Homo sapiens: one gene and its partners. The protein of the gene in region 1 purifies or fractionates together with the protein of each later gene. This does not show direct contact. Each region holds a gene or a part of one and is shown in the gene's direction. Other genes may lie near its edges.

The links. Proteins that work in one complex are often made in the same cells at the same time.
Region 2: the proteins of FAM153A (region 1) and EDC3 purify together in Homo sapiens (affinity purification with mass spectrometry; one large-scale study listed by BioGRID and IntAct). This does not show direct contact.
Region 3: the proteins of FAM153A (region 1) and KIF3A purify together in Homo sapiens (affinity purification with mass spectrometry; one large-scale study listed by BioGRID and IntAct). This does not show direct contact.

The regions. Positions count from the first base shown.
Region 1 is NC_000005.10:177,722,777-177,728,215, reverse strand, and holds the end of FAM153A (protein FAM153A), read left to right. Parts: intron 1-3,394; coding exon 3,395-3,432; intron 3,433-3,853; coding exon 3,854-3,921; intron 3,922-4,009; coding exon 4,010-4,103; 3' UTR 4,104-4,852; downstream 4,853-5,439.
Region 2 is NC_000015.10:74,685,066-74,689,794, reverse strand, and holds part of EDC3 (enhancer of mRNA-decapping protein 3), read left to right. Parts: intron 1-2,615; exon of another isoform or gene 2,616-2,704; intron 2,705-4,729. UniProt on the Homo sapiens protein: Binds single-stranded RNA. Involved in the process of mRNA degradation and in the positive regulation of mRNA decapping. May play a role in spermiogenesis and oogenesis.
Region 3 is NC_000005.10:132,716,088-132,720,816, reverse strand, and holds part of KIF3A (kinesin-like protein KIF3A), read left to right. Parts: intron 1-102; coding exon 103-208; intron 209-3,832; coding exon 3,833-3,972; intron 3,973-4,374; coding exon 4,375-4,572; intron 4,573-4,729. UniProt on the Homo sapiens protein: Microtubule-based anterograde translocator for membranous organelles. Plus end-directed microtubule sliding activity in vitro. Plays a role in primary cilia formation. Plays a role in centriole cohesion and subdistal appendage organization and function.

The DNA.
Region 1 (5,439 bases):
CAAGCTCTTGGTCTTTTAAGTGCAAGAGGCACATGTGAACTCGGGGATGAGTGGAAGGTTAATGCCATGAGCTAGTACACTGAATTTGTCACAAAGCCCTGGTATAATTTCTTGCTAGGCCAAGTTATTCCAGCAATTCTGTGTGCATGTGGGAGAATGAAAAGCTATTCAGATCCCAAACACTATCGTTATCAGATGGTCTCAATGGTCAGCTAACCCAGGGTTTGTTTGAGTAGGTACATTGCACAGTGGGCTTTAGTGTGATCATTAATGTAAAACACACACAGTCCTCAGGCTTTTGGTCTAGAATGGTGAAATCATTCCTCAGCTCCTTTTCAAAAGCAGACAATAATCAGTGGCATATTCTATTGTATTTAATGAAATAATCATCAGGCAGGATACCTGCCCCACACTAGTTGCAGAGGAGGTGAGAACAGACCCTGCTTCAGTGCAAGGTGAACTCAGCAAAGGGAGTGGGGCTGCTCCAGAGTCCAGGTGGTCCTTGCAACTCTCCTGTGTGATGTATAAGACATCACTTTGCCTTTTCTCTGAGATAGTCTTGGAATTGTTAGTCCTAAACTCTGTTTTGCTTTACTTATGTGTAGATGAATCCTGGCCATGGCTGGTCACGGAGGGGAAGGACTATGTCCTCCTCGTTCCTTCTCATCCCAGAGCTTAGCCCTGGGCAGCCCATCTTGGGCCCCAGTAATGTTCCAATGCTTCCAAACCCTTTGCTGAGATCCAGCACCAGTGTGAAAAGGCTTCCTGCTCATCTCCTTCAATCTGTTGTTTCTCATAGTAATTTAGAAACCTTAGTGGATTCTGATCCAAGGTCACAGGAGAATAGGGTGGGCTCCTGAAGTCAATGAAGTGTCCCCCTCATCTCTACCCTGGCTACTTTGGTTCAGCTTTTCTCCTTGCAGAAGAGGCTGTTTTTCTGTTTACGAGTCCTCCTTTGCTGGACCAGGCTTTTTTATTTTTGTTGTGGCATCCCTGCACTTCACAGGGGGCCTGGAGCTTGTTCCTGTGCCCCTGAAGTACCCATCCATGAATGATCAGATCACAGCAGCAAACCACTCTGCCAGGAATCACCAGGGGGGAGAGTCACATCTTCCTCATCTTTGGGTTTAGACCTGTGCATTCCAGTATGGTCCTCAGTGGCATATGTGCCCATTCATGTTAAAATAAATGAAAAAATTCATAACCTCCTCACAAGAGCCATGCTAGAAGTTCCCAGTTGCCAAAAGTCTACTCTTAAGAGAGCATCTCCATTCTCCCAGAATCACCTGGGAAGCAGCTGCTGTGAGTCTGGCCCAGGTTCTGTTCTCTGCACCCACCTAACTCAGTGCATTTGCATCAAGGCTGGAATCTCAGGTTCTCAGATTGGAGGTAAGAGATGCTATGAGCCAGTGTCGGTGAACAGTTGAAAGGGATTATTTCAGGTCCTCTGTCTTACCTGAAGGCTCACAACTGTGAGCAGTGCCTTCATAAAGGCCCCTGAGTTCACAGAGCCCAGGGAGAATCACAGTGGACAGAGCAGTAGTACTAATGTTTGTGTCTCTGTACATGGGCTCATGGGCACCACCTCTGGATCCATCCAGGAGGAAATAGACTGGTCAGGTAGGGACCAACACTCCAGGGTTGACCAGTGAGACAGGGTTCTTGGGAATTGGGTTACACTTATTTTGGAGCCTAGGATGGGATCAGTGAAGTGACTAAATATGAAACAGGTGTAGAAGTCTGACTTGGGATTTTTTGTATCTTAATGAGAAAGTCCTAAGAGTTTTGTTCTCATGGGCTTTGTGCGAGTTGTGTATGTCACCATCATTTCTTGCTCTGGTGTTTAAATATTACATTTTGCAGAAGACCAGATCATTCCTGCCTTTGCCACAGTAAGCACCAGAGCCCTGGGTTTTGATGAGGTAGCATTTTTTTGTGAATAGAGATCACAAGATGAGTATGCAGGTGTAAAGTTGAGTGTGGGGTGGGACACAGCCCCACATAGGCGCTACGTGATCCTGAAGACAAAGTCCTTCATACGTGTGCCAGGAGGTGAAAGGAGCCCACTGTCTTTCTCTACACTCTTGGGACCTGCAACAGCACCTTCCTGTCCTGTCCTCACTGTCTGCTCCTGCTCTAAGGGTGCTCCCTGGGTCGGATGACACAGGGAATCCTTCCTCTGGGATTCCTACGTGTGCCCCAGCATCCTGGAGTCCTGAGGGCAGAACACATGATTGAGCACAGTTTTGGCCTCCACTCCTCACCCAATCCCATCCAATCCCAAATCCCTGTGCTTTGAATGAAACCTAAATTGGCTTTCACTGGAGAGGCCCAAGTCTAGCTGTTGCTCAGGGCCCTCTGTGGCTGGCAGGAATCCTAAGGGATATGTGTGGAGGGGCTGCTGTGTTGCTGTAGGCAGTGGCTCTCACCCTCCCTGTAGCCTGGTCCCTGGAATCCACTGGGCCCAGGGCAGAGCCTCTGGGCAGCTGGCACAGTAGTCACTTGTCTTGTCACACCCTCCTCTCTGGCTCAGCAGCCTTGTCCTTCTCCCCACACTCCAGTCAGGCCCAGATTGTTCTCTGTGTCAGGTCTTCCAGGTACCTTCCCTCCTAGTCTTCCCACAGCTCAGGCAAACCCTGGGAGGGTCCCCTCATTTCTGTGCTGGCAACTGCTGGCCTCACTTGCAGATTAAGGCAACTGGGACAAGGAGCTTTACCTTGAATTCTGTTCCATTGTTTCCAAATATTCAGAAGCTGCTGGGATTCTTTTGAGGGCTGAATATTTTCCAAGTCTCTAAGGTCACTCCAGGCATAGAACAGTCACTGTATAAGTGACATCGGCCATCATCACCTCCCGCAGGCCCCAACACAACCCCAGGCCTGTGGGAGGTGCTGCTGACCCAGGGTGCGATCCGTGGGTTGATTGGAGGCCCTGGCAGTGCAGCCTTGACCTTCTTTCCAGTGTTCTTATTTTGGAGAACAGTAGGACTGGTGGAGGTCCACAGGGTGAAAGGAAATGGGATTCATGCGGGAACAGAAACAGGCCCTACAGGAGGAGAAGGGAGGGAACTCCATGTCACGCACAACGTTGTGAAGAGGGCGCTGCCTCTTGGAGGAACAGAATGACACGGCTTCCCCTCCCTTGGCTCAGTTATGGAATGTGAGGGCTGGGAAAGTACATGGGAAGTCAGAGGTCCCTCCCTCATAGCACAGAGGAAATGATACAGGCTGTGGAGAAGGCTCCAGAAATGAGCACATCAGAGGCTCTGGGGTTGGCTCCACAGCCCCAGGACAGCGGGGTCTGAGTGGTTCTCTCGACTCTAACTCTCCCCTTTCCTTCTTATGGCCACCCCATCACCGCTGCTCCTCCGGACACTCTGATGCTTGCTTCACAGAATTGGAAGACTCCACCATTACAGGCAGCCACCAGCAGGTAATTGATCTCCTCTTATATGCTGGCTGTCTTTTATCCTCTTTCTGACTCATGAGCTCCTTTTTTAGCTCTAGTCCTTTTCCTCTTTCCCTCTCTTGTGATTGTTCTCCTGAAGGACCTGGTCTCATCCCACAGTTGAGGTCCTCGGGTCTTCAGTGTCGATAAAATCCCTCTCCAGCCCTCCTGCCCACTGCCTTGGCATTGCCCTGTTTACTGGCCCCCAGGTTGCAGCTTTGAATCTTGCTGAACAACCCTACAGGGTCCAGGGGAGGGGGCTGGGCTGGGGTCAGAAGAGCTGGACCCCACCCTGCTGGAGGGACCCCCCAGTGACATCTGGGTCTGCTCTGGACACCGCCTTCACAGATAGGTCTTTTCCTGCACTGGCGTCTCTGGACATGCACAATTGTTCTCTTCCTCACAGATGTCAGCAAGTCCTTCCTCTGCACCTGCAGAAGAAGCAACAGAAAAGACCAAAGTGGAAGAGGAAGTGTGAGTGTGCAGTGGGCAGAATGATGAGGGAAGTGGGCACGTGCCCATGTTCTTCTTGGCTACGCTCACTTTCTTGTTGTCCCATCAGGAAAACCAGAAAGCCCAAGAAGAAAACCAGGAAGCCCAGCAAGAAAAGCCGGTGGAATGTCCTGAAATGTTGGGACATTTTTAATATATTTTAGAGACCTCTGAAGGCAAGTGAAGGATGCCCTGAGAACATGCTCCAGGAAACAGACACCCACTCCATAGCAGCCCCTGAGCCTGCTGGGCTGAGCCCTCCACAGGCTGCTTAGTGAGGGAGACACTGAGGTGCTGGTCGCACCCCCATGTGCAGGACTCCAAGGGCTTTGCACTGTGTTGTCTGCAGTAACTCTTCAGCTCACCAACATCTCATTTGGGGGGACCTAGCTCTGTCTTCCCAGCCCCTTGAGGACAACAGGGAGCATCACTAGTTCATCCTGAGGAGACACTAGGGTTGACATGAATCCCCCTGGTTCAGGCCTCCTGGGAAAGGTGTGAGAGGGATGGAGGCACCCCCAGGCTCCTTGTCACACAAGCGAGCAGCCCACCCGACCCAGTATTGCAGGCCAGCAGGCCCTCAGTAGGTCCTGGTGTCAAGCAGGGGACACGGCAGGATCCAAGAAGCACTGAAATGTGTCCAGTCCCAGGAGTCCTTCAGCCTCTGGGGGGTCTGGGGGCCTCCAGTTCCAGGGGTCCTTCAGCCTCTGTGGGGGCCTGGGGTGGCCTCATGGCCCCCTTTTTCAAGATGAGGTTGGAGGCTTCTGTATGTAGAGGGCACTGGCTTGGGCCAAATGCCAACAAAACAAACCCTTGAAGACATTTCAGGGCCATGCTCACTTGGGAGGGTTTGAGGACATGATTTAGCGAGCCTCTGTTTTTTAAATATATTTTCCAATCTTGAAATAAGGTACACATATGAATGTGTGTGTGTGTGTGTGTACATATACACTGTTTTTCACTTTCAAATGTATGTCTTCTGTAACCCTTTTATGCTAGAATATACAAACATGAGAAATTTGTGTCTTACCAAAGCATAATTTTAAAAATTACAAAGCAAAGACAGGTCCGGTGGGGATGCTAGAAAGACCAGGTCTTATTAGGCAATAACAATGACATGCTCCAGGAAGCTATGCATGTTCAACGTGCAGCTCTTCTCCAGGAAGCTATGCATGTTCAACGTGCAGCTCTTCTCCAGGAAGCTATGCATGTTCAACGTGCAGCTCTTCTCCAGGAAGCTATGCATATTCAACGTGCAGCTCTTCCGTCTGGATGGCACAGAGGATCTGGGTGGCAAGGCAGGGTCACCACCCCCACCCTGTGTCATGAGACCTCCTGCTCCTCTTAGGGCCCAGGGGCATGGGACTCTGCCTGTTGATCCTGGTATGCTTGAAATTCCGTTTCTGTGTGTCTGTTTTACCCTCCGGGGAACCAGCCCCCTGAAGGTGCCCGTGTGAGCGCCCAGGTTCATTCTTCCTCCATGACACTCACACTCTCTGT
Region 2 (4,729 bases), on another chromosome or scaffold:
CCCAGCACTTTGGGAGGCCGAGGCGGGCGGATCATGAGGTCAGGAGATCGAGACCATCCTGGCTAACACGGTGAAACCCCATCTCCACTAAAAATACAAAAAATTAGCCGGGCGCGGTGGCGGGCACCTGTAGTCCCAGCTACTCAGGAGGCTGAGGCGGGAGGATGGTGTGAACCCAGGAGGCGGAGCTTGCAGTGAGCTGAGATAGTGCCACTGCAGTCCGGCCTGGGCGAAAGAGCGAGACTCCGTCTCAAAAAAAGAAAAAAAAAAAAGAAATGGAGGGAGAAGGAAGACAAATAAGACTAAATGAACTTTGGTAGCAAGTTCTTGACTGAATAGTAATTCACAACATCTCTGAATTCAGTAGTCATTACAATTTTAGGAATAATTTATTGGGAGAATAACAGTATCAATGAAGCAAGAGTAAATAAGAAGTATGTTTAAGAAAATACCAAAACCATTGCACCCCACCAGAATGAGTAAGTTGAAGAGAACAATAGTACCAAGTTTTGGCAAGATGAGGAGCAGAAAGAACTCACGTATGGTGGGTTGTATAAATGTAGATGGTAATACAAAATGGTACAACCACTTTGGAAAACTGTTCAGTGGTTCCTAATAAAGTCATAAATATAACATGACTTCCTGTGTTATATGCCCAGTAGAAATGGATGTATTTGTCCATCGCAGAAATATACTGTATACAGTTTAAGAATATTATTTGTAATAAGTCAGAACTAGAAATAACCCAACTATGTATCAGCAGTAGAATGGATAAATACATTGAGGCATGCTTACAGAAAACAGCACAGCTATGAGAAAGAATAAACTTCTGATACATGCAACAATGGGGATGAATCTCACAAATGTACTTTTTTTTTTTTTTTTTTTGAGACAGCATCTCGCTCTGTCACCCATACTGGAGTGCAGTAGCAGGATCTTGGCTCACTGCAACCTCCGCCTCCCCAGTTCAAGCGATTCTTGTGCCTCAGCCTCCTGAGTAGCTGGGATTACAGGCATGTGCCACCACGCCCAGCTAATTTTTTGTATTTTTAGTAGAGACAGGGTTTTGCCATGTTGGCTAGATTGGTATTGAACTCTTGACCTCAAGTGATCCACCCGCCGTGGCCTCCCAAAGTGCTGGGATTACAGGCATGAGCCACCATGCCTGGCCTCACAGATGTACTTTTGAGCAAAAGAAGACAAACACTCTGAAAGAGAACCTTTATGATTCTGTTTATGTGAAGCTCAAAATCAGGCTCAAATAATCTTTCATGATAGATGTCAGAATAATAACTACCTGTAGGAGGACACAATGGAGCCTTTTGAGGTGTTGGAAATAGTCTGTCTTGTTTTGAGTGGTGGTCACATGGGTGAATTGATATGTAAAATTTCAGGGAGGTGTACACTTAAAATATGTAGACTGACTTACTGTATATGTTATACCTTGATAGAAAAGTAGAAAATAAAAGACAAGATTGGTTCCTTGTAGCTCCTGTATCTCCTGTACTTCTTTTGACGTGGAGGTGTTAGCTGTATAATTGATGGAGCCCCTTCCCTAGTCCGATTAGGAACCCAGTTGATGGGCACTGTACTTGTTTTAGATTTACTGTTTTCTGTAAATAGCATAATTTTCTTTATAGAATAAACCTGTTTGAGGAGTTTTGAATAATGCTATTTTACCAAGGGAAGTTTCTGAGGAAAGGGAAGTTTGTTACACATTCAGTGGTTATATTTTTAAAAGTTTCTATTAATATTAACTACATAGAAGAACACTTATAAACGAGTATCCACATTTTCAAAGTGTTAAAAATTCTATTCAGTTACTACTACCATAATATAAACTTGAATGCACAACATCAGTGTCTTAAAGATATATGTTAAATAAAACAGTAAAAGCCTTTTCATATCTGGTTAATTTCTGGTGCTTTTTATTCTGCATCTATCTAAGCATCTGAGTAGAATTATGATGGATTATAAATGATAGGAAAGGAAACTCATGCTTTTGTGACATTAGGCAAAGGTTGATCAGGAAGGGAAAAGAAGCCTAAAATGTGTGTATTTTGTGCTTTTTTACCATCATCATTATTGTTGAAATTGTGTTGCATTGAAAATTTACCCAAGGGCCAGGCACAGTGGCTCATGCCTGTAATCCTAGTGCAGAGGCTGAGGTGAGCAGATCACCAGAAGGCAGGAGTTCGAGATCAGTCTGGCCAACATGGTGAAACCCCATCTCTACTAAAAATACAAAAATTAGCTGGGTGTGGTGGCGGGCGCCTGTAGTCCCAGCTACTCAGGAGGCTGAGGAAGGAGAATTGCCTGATTGAACCTGGGAGGCAGAAGTTGCAGTGAGCCAAGATTGCGCCACTGCACTCTAGCCTGGGCGACAGAGCAAGGCTCTGTTTCATTCTATAATAAATGTAACAAAAAAAAGCCTGTATGAGCCTGCTAATTCATTGTTCTTTTAATCTTCGGTTCTGTCCGCATAGTTTTATGATACTGGCTCAGTTAGATCACTAGAGAACTATCTAGAGTTTGATTAATCCCTAGAGCTGGACTCTTTCAGACTTAGTGTTTCTAATGGGGCATACTGTTTTTTGTTTTTTTTTTTGAGACAGGGTCTTGCTGTGTTGCCCAGCCTGGTCTTGAATTCCTGGACTCAAGTGATGCTCCTGCCTTGGCTTCCCAAACTCCTGGAATTACAACTGTGAGCCACTGCACCCAGCCAGGAGTGCTTTATTTTTATTTATTTTTTATTTTTTTCTAGACGGAGTCTTGCTCTGTTGCCCAGGCTGGAGTGCAGTGGTGCGGTGTCGGCTCACTGCAGGCTCCGCCTCTTGGGTTCAAGCAGTTATCCTGTCAGCCTCCTGAGTAGCTGGGATTACAGGTGCATGCCACCATGCCGTCCACGTCGGCCTCCCAAAGTGCTGGGATTATAGGCGTGAGCCATTGCGGCTGGCCTGGAGGAGTGCTGTATATGCTTTTTTGCCCCTTTCCCTTCATTTATGTATTTATTTTGAGACAAAGTCTTGCTCTTGTTAGCAGGCTGGAGTGCAGTGGCGCAATTTCTGCTCACTGTATCCTCTGCGTCTTGGGTTCAAGTGGTTTTCCCACCTCAGCCTCCTAAATAGCTGGGATTACAGGCACCCACCACCACACCTGGCTAATTTTTGTATTTTTAGTAGAGATGGGGTTTCACCATGTTGGCCAGGCTGGTCTCAAACTCCTCAGGTGATCCACCTGCCTCGGCCTCTGAAAGTGCTGGGATTATAGGAGTGAGCCACCGTGGCTGGCCTATTTAATTTTTTTTGAGATGGAGTCTTGTTCTTGTTGCCCAGGCTGGAGTGCAATGGTGTGATCTCAGCTCACTGCAACCTTCGCCTCCCAATTTCAAGTGACTCCCCTGCCTCAGCCTCCCAAGTAGCTGGGATTACAGGCATGCACCACCATGCCCGGCTAATTTTTTTTTTTTGAGACCGAGTCTTGTTCTCGTTGCCCAGGCTGGAGTGCAATGGCACGATCTCAGCCCACTGCATCCTCCGCCTCCCGGGTTCAAGCGATTCTCCTGCTTCAGCCTCCTGAGTAACTGGGATTACAGGAACATGCCACCGCATTTGGCTAATTTTTGTATTTTTAGTAGAGATGGGGTTTCACCTTGTTGGTCAGGCTGGTCTCGAACTCCTGACCTTGTGATCCACCTGCCTCAGCCTTCCAAAGTGCTGGGATTACAGGCGTGAGCCACTGCGCCCGGCCAATTTTGTATTTTTAGTAGATATGGGGTTTCATCATGTTGGTCAGGCTGGTCTCGAACTCCTGACCTCATGTGATCCACCTGCCTTGGCATCCCAAACTGCTGGAATTATAAACGTGAGCCCCCACACTCAGTCAGGACATACTCTTTTACCAGAGGGGTGCTTTATATGCTTTTTTGCTCCTTTATGTCTGAAATTAGTATTTGAAAACAGTTTCAAGTGCTGGTTTCTTTTTTTAATGTAAAAACACTGAACCAGTGTTTCACTTTGTGCTTAACATGTGTATTTATATTCATCTGCTATCATCTGCTAGCTGTTTTCTGACTTCCTCGTGTGAGTGGGGAAGTGTTAGGTTTCATACCTTATATAGGATTTTGCATAGAGTATGCCCAAGGATACTGTATTTTTTAGAACCATTTTCAAAAAGAGCCAAGACATTTAGATATAAACATGTAGGTACTCTAGATTTTGAGTAACTTCTGTCACGTTTATTATTTCTAATTCATTCATCGATTGATTAAATATTTATTGACTTCTTCCACTCTAGGCACTCTTATTGACTGAACAAGACTATGTCATTTGTCCTATTCTAGTGGGGTGACACACACACTATCTATCTATCTATCTATATACTTTTTGTTTTGAGACAGGGTCTCACTCTGTCATCTAGGCTGGGGTGCAGTGGCCTGATCATGGCTCATTGCAGCCTTGACCTTCCGGGCTCAAGTGGTCCTCCTGTCTCAGCATTCTGAGTAGCTGTAGCTTGTATTACAGGCATGTGCCACCAAGCCTGGCTAGTTTTTTTAATTTTTTTGCAGAGATGGGGTCTCCCTATGTTGCCTAGGCTGGTCTCAAACTTCTGGACTCAAGCCATCTGCCCACCTTAGCCTCCCAGAATGCTGAGATTACAGGCATGAACCACCATGCCTGACCAACACACACAATATGAAGAAACAAGATAATTCATATAGTGATTGATT
Region 3 (4,729 bases), about 45 Mb from region 1:
TATATTCCCTCTGTCTAGTAGAGTGTCCAACACATAGGAGATACTCAATAAATAATTGTGGAAGAGTTATTGATATAGTATAAAGTCTTAATTTTTTTTTAGGTTAAAGAAAGACCTGATGTGGGAGTTTATATCAAAGATTTATCAGCTTATGTGGTAAATAATGCTGATGATATGGATAGAATTATGACGCTAGGCCACAAAAATCGTAAGTATAGTGTGTAATTGTGATTAAGCATCTGTGTGTTGAGTAGGCTGGTTTAGAAGCAAATTTGGTATGGCACTTTACCCTGTAGAGACTGGATTTTTTAGGTTTCTTGAAAACCATTCCACTTTGATTATTTACCATGTAGAGAGCATAGATGAATGAAAGATACCACAAATCATTTTCCATGCCGAGCAAAATTTTGTTTCTTTTTAGTAGCGCCAATCTATGCAACTCTCATACGGCTGTCTCTTGGTAGCTATAATAGTAAAATTGGTAATGTTTATTGAGCTCTTAGTGGAGAGTGCTTGTGCTAAGTGCTTCATAAAGATGCTCTCTTAGTCCTCACAGGAGACTATGAAGACATTAAATTCTTACTTTATGAATGAAGAAAGTGAGACTTAGTTTAAGTAACTTGTCTAAGTACTATAACTACTAAGTGGTAGAGTGAGTGATCACACCTAAGCCATAGCCACGCACAGTGGCTCATGCCTGTAATCCCAGCAACTCGGGAGGCTGAACTGGGAGGATCATTTGAGGCCAGGAGTTTGAGACCAGCCTGGACAATAGGGAGCCCCTGTCCTAAAGAAACCCACCTGGAAGAAACCCAAAAAACCTAGGCCAGTAGTCTGCATTAACTAGGCACTGTAATGCTTCCCTTTTGTTGACAAGAAAAGCAAAACAAAATTTAAATTAAAAAATTGTATTCTTTTTAGTAATTGTGTCACATTTTTAGTCTAAAGAGTAGGAAGCTTCAGCGATATTATACAGATGCCTCAAACCTAGTACTGGTGATGCAGCTAATAGCAATTAGAAATTAGAGGTGAAAAGTCTGGTCGCGGTGGCTCACACCTGTAATCCCAGCACTTTGGGAGGCTGAGGTGGGTGGATCACTTGTTTGAGACCAGCCTGGCCAACATGGTGAAACCCCGTCTCTACTAAAAATACAAAAATTAGCTGGGAGTGGTGGTGGGTGCCTGTAATCCCAGTTACTCGGGAGGCTGTGGCAGGAGAATCGTTTTAACCAGGAAGGCAGAAGTTGCAGTGAGCCGAGATCGCGCCACTGCACTCCAACTTGGGCAACACAGCAACCAAAAAAAAAAGAAAAAAAGAGGGATTAGAGGTAAAAGATGAGAAATAGGAAATGAAAAATTTTTATAAGTTTCTGTGACTTGACGATAGATATATCAAACCCAAGGAAATCAAACAACAAAACTTCAAAAATCAATTACATTCTTATGAACCAATTAATAGAAAAAGACCAAATCTTAATAGAAAAATTAGCAAAAAATATGTATGTTATTCGTAGAAGAACTAAGCACAGCAATAAGTATGTGAAAGGCTGTTTAACTTCACAACTAATCAGGAAAATGCTAAAACAAGATAGAGAGAGATGTTTCACCCATCAGATTAGATGAAGGATATGTAGGTTGGTGAGACTTTGAAGAAATGGGCACTGAGGATGGAATATAAATTGGTGCAGCCTATTTGAAGGGCATTGTTAACAGTATCTGTTGACATTTTAAAATACATTCCTTTTGACTCTGTGTTTCTAATTTTAGACATTCTGGAAAATATTTTTAGATGTAACAATCTAAATAACCTTCAATAAAACCCTGATTATGTAAATGATGACACAAAAATACCATAGACTGTAATAAAGCTGTTAAAAACAATGAGTTAGGCTGGGTGTGGTGGCTCATGCCTGTAATCCCAACACTCTGGGAGGCCAAGGTGGGCAGATTTCCTGAACTCAGGAGTTAGAGACCAGCCTGTGCAACATGGCGAAACCCCATCTCAACTAAAAATACAAAAAAATCAGCCAGACGTGGTGGCTTACGCCTATAATCCCAGCTACTTGGGATGCTGAGGCAGCAGAATTGCTTGAACCTGGGAGGCAGAGGTTGCAGTGAGCCAAGATAGCACCACTGAACTCCAGCCTGGGCAATAGAGGAAGACTCTGTCTCAAAAACAAAACAAAACAACAACAAAAAAAACAACAAGCTGAGTGTGGTGGCTCATGCATATAATCCCAGCACTCTGGGTGGCTGAGGCGGATGGATCACTTGAGGCCAGGAGTTTGAGACCAGCCTGGCCAACCTGGTGAAACCTCGTCTCTGCTAAAAATACAAAAATTAGCTGGGCGTGGTGGTGCGCACCTGTGATCTCAGCTACTCAGGAGGTTGAGGCCGGAGGATCACTTGAACCTGGGAGGTGGAGGTTGCAGTGAGCCGAGATTGTGCCACTGCCCTCCAGCCTGGGTGACAGAGGGAGACCCTGTCTCAAACAAAACAACAAAAAAACCCAGTCAGGTAAATGTGCCTACACAGAGCTGGAAGATTTTCAAAGTATGTTTGTCAGTGGGGGGATAAAAGCAAATTGTAGAACAGTATGTATGTACTGCCTTACCCCATTTATTTATATGTGAAAAATTGTTAAACCATATATTTATTTGGGCAGTGTGTGTGTGTTTGTGTCTACACGTATGTATATAAAATACAGAATGAAAGGACAGATTGTAGTGGTTACCTTTAGAGAAGGAGAAATAAAATTGGGGAAAAGGAATGTCAGGAGCTTTCACTTTATGCTTTCTGTATGCTTTTATTAAAAAAACAAATACCAGAAATATGTTAATTATTGGTTATTTAATTAAAAATTTTAACACAAGATTTCATTCATAGAATGAAATTAATTTAATTCTCAGGTAGTTAATTGGAGCTTTTGGTCACTTCATTAAAGATTACCCTTTTAATGTTTCAATTATAAAATCAAAGCTTGCACAGAAAAATGCTGCATGAATGTATAGTAGGAAGATAATTTTGGCATTGAGTAAAATTAACTTTAAAATACTTTGGAATTTAAGAAAAAAACTAATACAGGTCTATTGTAAAAAAATGTTTTTTGTTTACACAATATATTCATATATTTACACATATGCAAATACTTTGCATATTTTGAATGGATTTTTTTTTTTTACAGAAGTAGGATTATGTTATGTATTTCTTTCTAACTTGCTTTTATTTTTAATTTATATGTTATGGACATTTTTCCACGTTTTTAGATCTACCTTATTTTTTTTAATGCTGCACTGAATATTGTTGTATTGTCTAACATATGTGTGCAAGTATTCCTGTGGTTTATATGTTCAAGCTGGAGTGCAGTGGCGCAATCTCAGCTCACTGCAACCTCCACCTCTCGGATTCAAGTGATTCTTGTGCCTCAGCCTCCCAAGTAGCTAAAATTCTCTTTATTATTATTGTTTTTTACTTCCTGCAGTACACCAGCATGCATACTTCTCTTTAGATAGCTAAATCAGCAATAATTTTTCCAATTAATGTGGTTTTTTGGTGTAAATTAGTTATTTTTTAGGCAGTATTACTAGGGATTGAAATTATTTTTTGCTAAAGTTATGTCTTTAATATGAGAAACCTTACAAATTTGTTATCAACAAAGTATAAGAGAAATTTCATGTAGTGGCTAAGTACACACCCATGCCTTTATGGTTTAGCCATGCTCTCTGGCTTTTGATTGTGATAAAATTAAGTGTTTTAAACTGTTCAGGATGTTTAATTATTTTTAAAGGCACTCTCTGTTACACTTTTAAAGGATTTCGTTTATTTATTAAAGGTTCTGTTGGTGCAACTAATATGAACGAACATAGTTCCCGTTCCCATGCCATCTTTACAATTACTATAGAATGCAGTGAAAAAGGCATTGATGGTAACATGCATGTCAGGATGGGGAAGCTCCATCTTGTAGATCTTGCTGTAAGTAACAGGACACTGCTTAAGGAATAACTCTTTCTTGTGATCCATTTATTTTATAAATGAATGAAAATTAAAGTGAAAAGGTATGATTTACATATGATTTTTAAGGTGTTACTTGTGTATGTTTATTATTTATTATGGAACATTTCAAATGTATATGAAAGTAGATAGAATAGTATAGTGATCCCCCATACACTGATCACCCAACTCCCAACAATCAGCTCATGGCTAATCTTGTTTCATGTACTCTCCCCCACTTCTTCCTTTCCTATATTATTTTGAAGTGAATTCAGGCATCATATCAGGTTTTTTACTGTTACATTACTTTTTAATAAAACCTTGGGAAGAATATTCTATTTTTAAAAAAATTTTAGCTTTACTTTCATCTCTGTTTATTGCTAGGGTTCAGAAAGACAGGCAAAAACTGGAGCTACTGGACAGCGCCTAAAGGAAGCTACAAAAATCAATCTTTCACTTTCCACCCTTGGTAATGTAATTTCTGCCTTGGTTGATGGAAAAAGCACTCATGTGCCTTATCGTAACTCTAAACTGACTCGTCTTCTTCAGGATTCCTTAGGAGGAAATTCAAAAACCATGATGGTAAGACTTAATTGGTGATATAGTTAACATCAGGCAAATTTAAGATTGTAATTTATGCCAATAATTGATACGTATCACATTTTTTAAACTTGATTATTTTACTTTTTTTGACTTGTGGTTGTCCTTTTTGTGGTACACTCGTGTATTAGCCCATAAT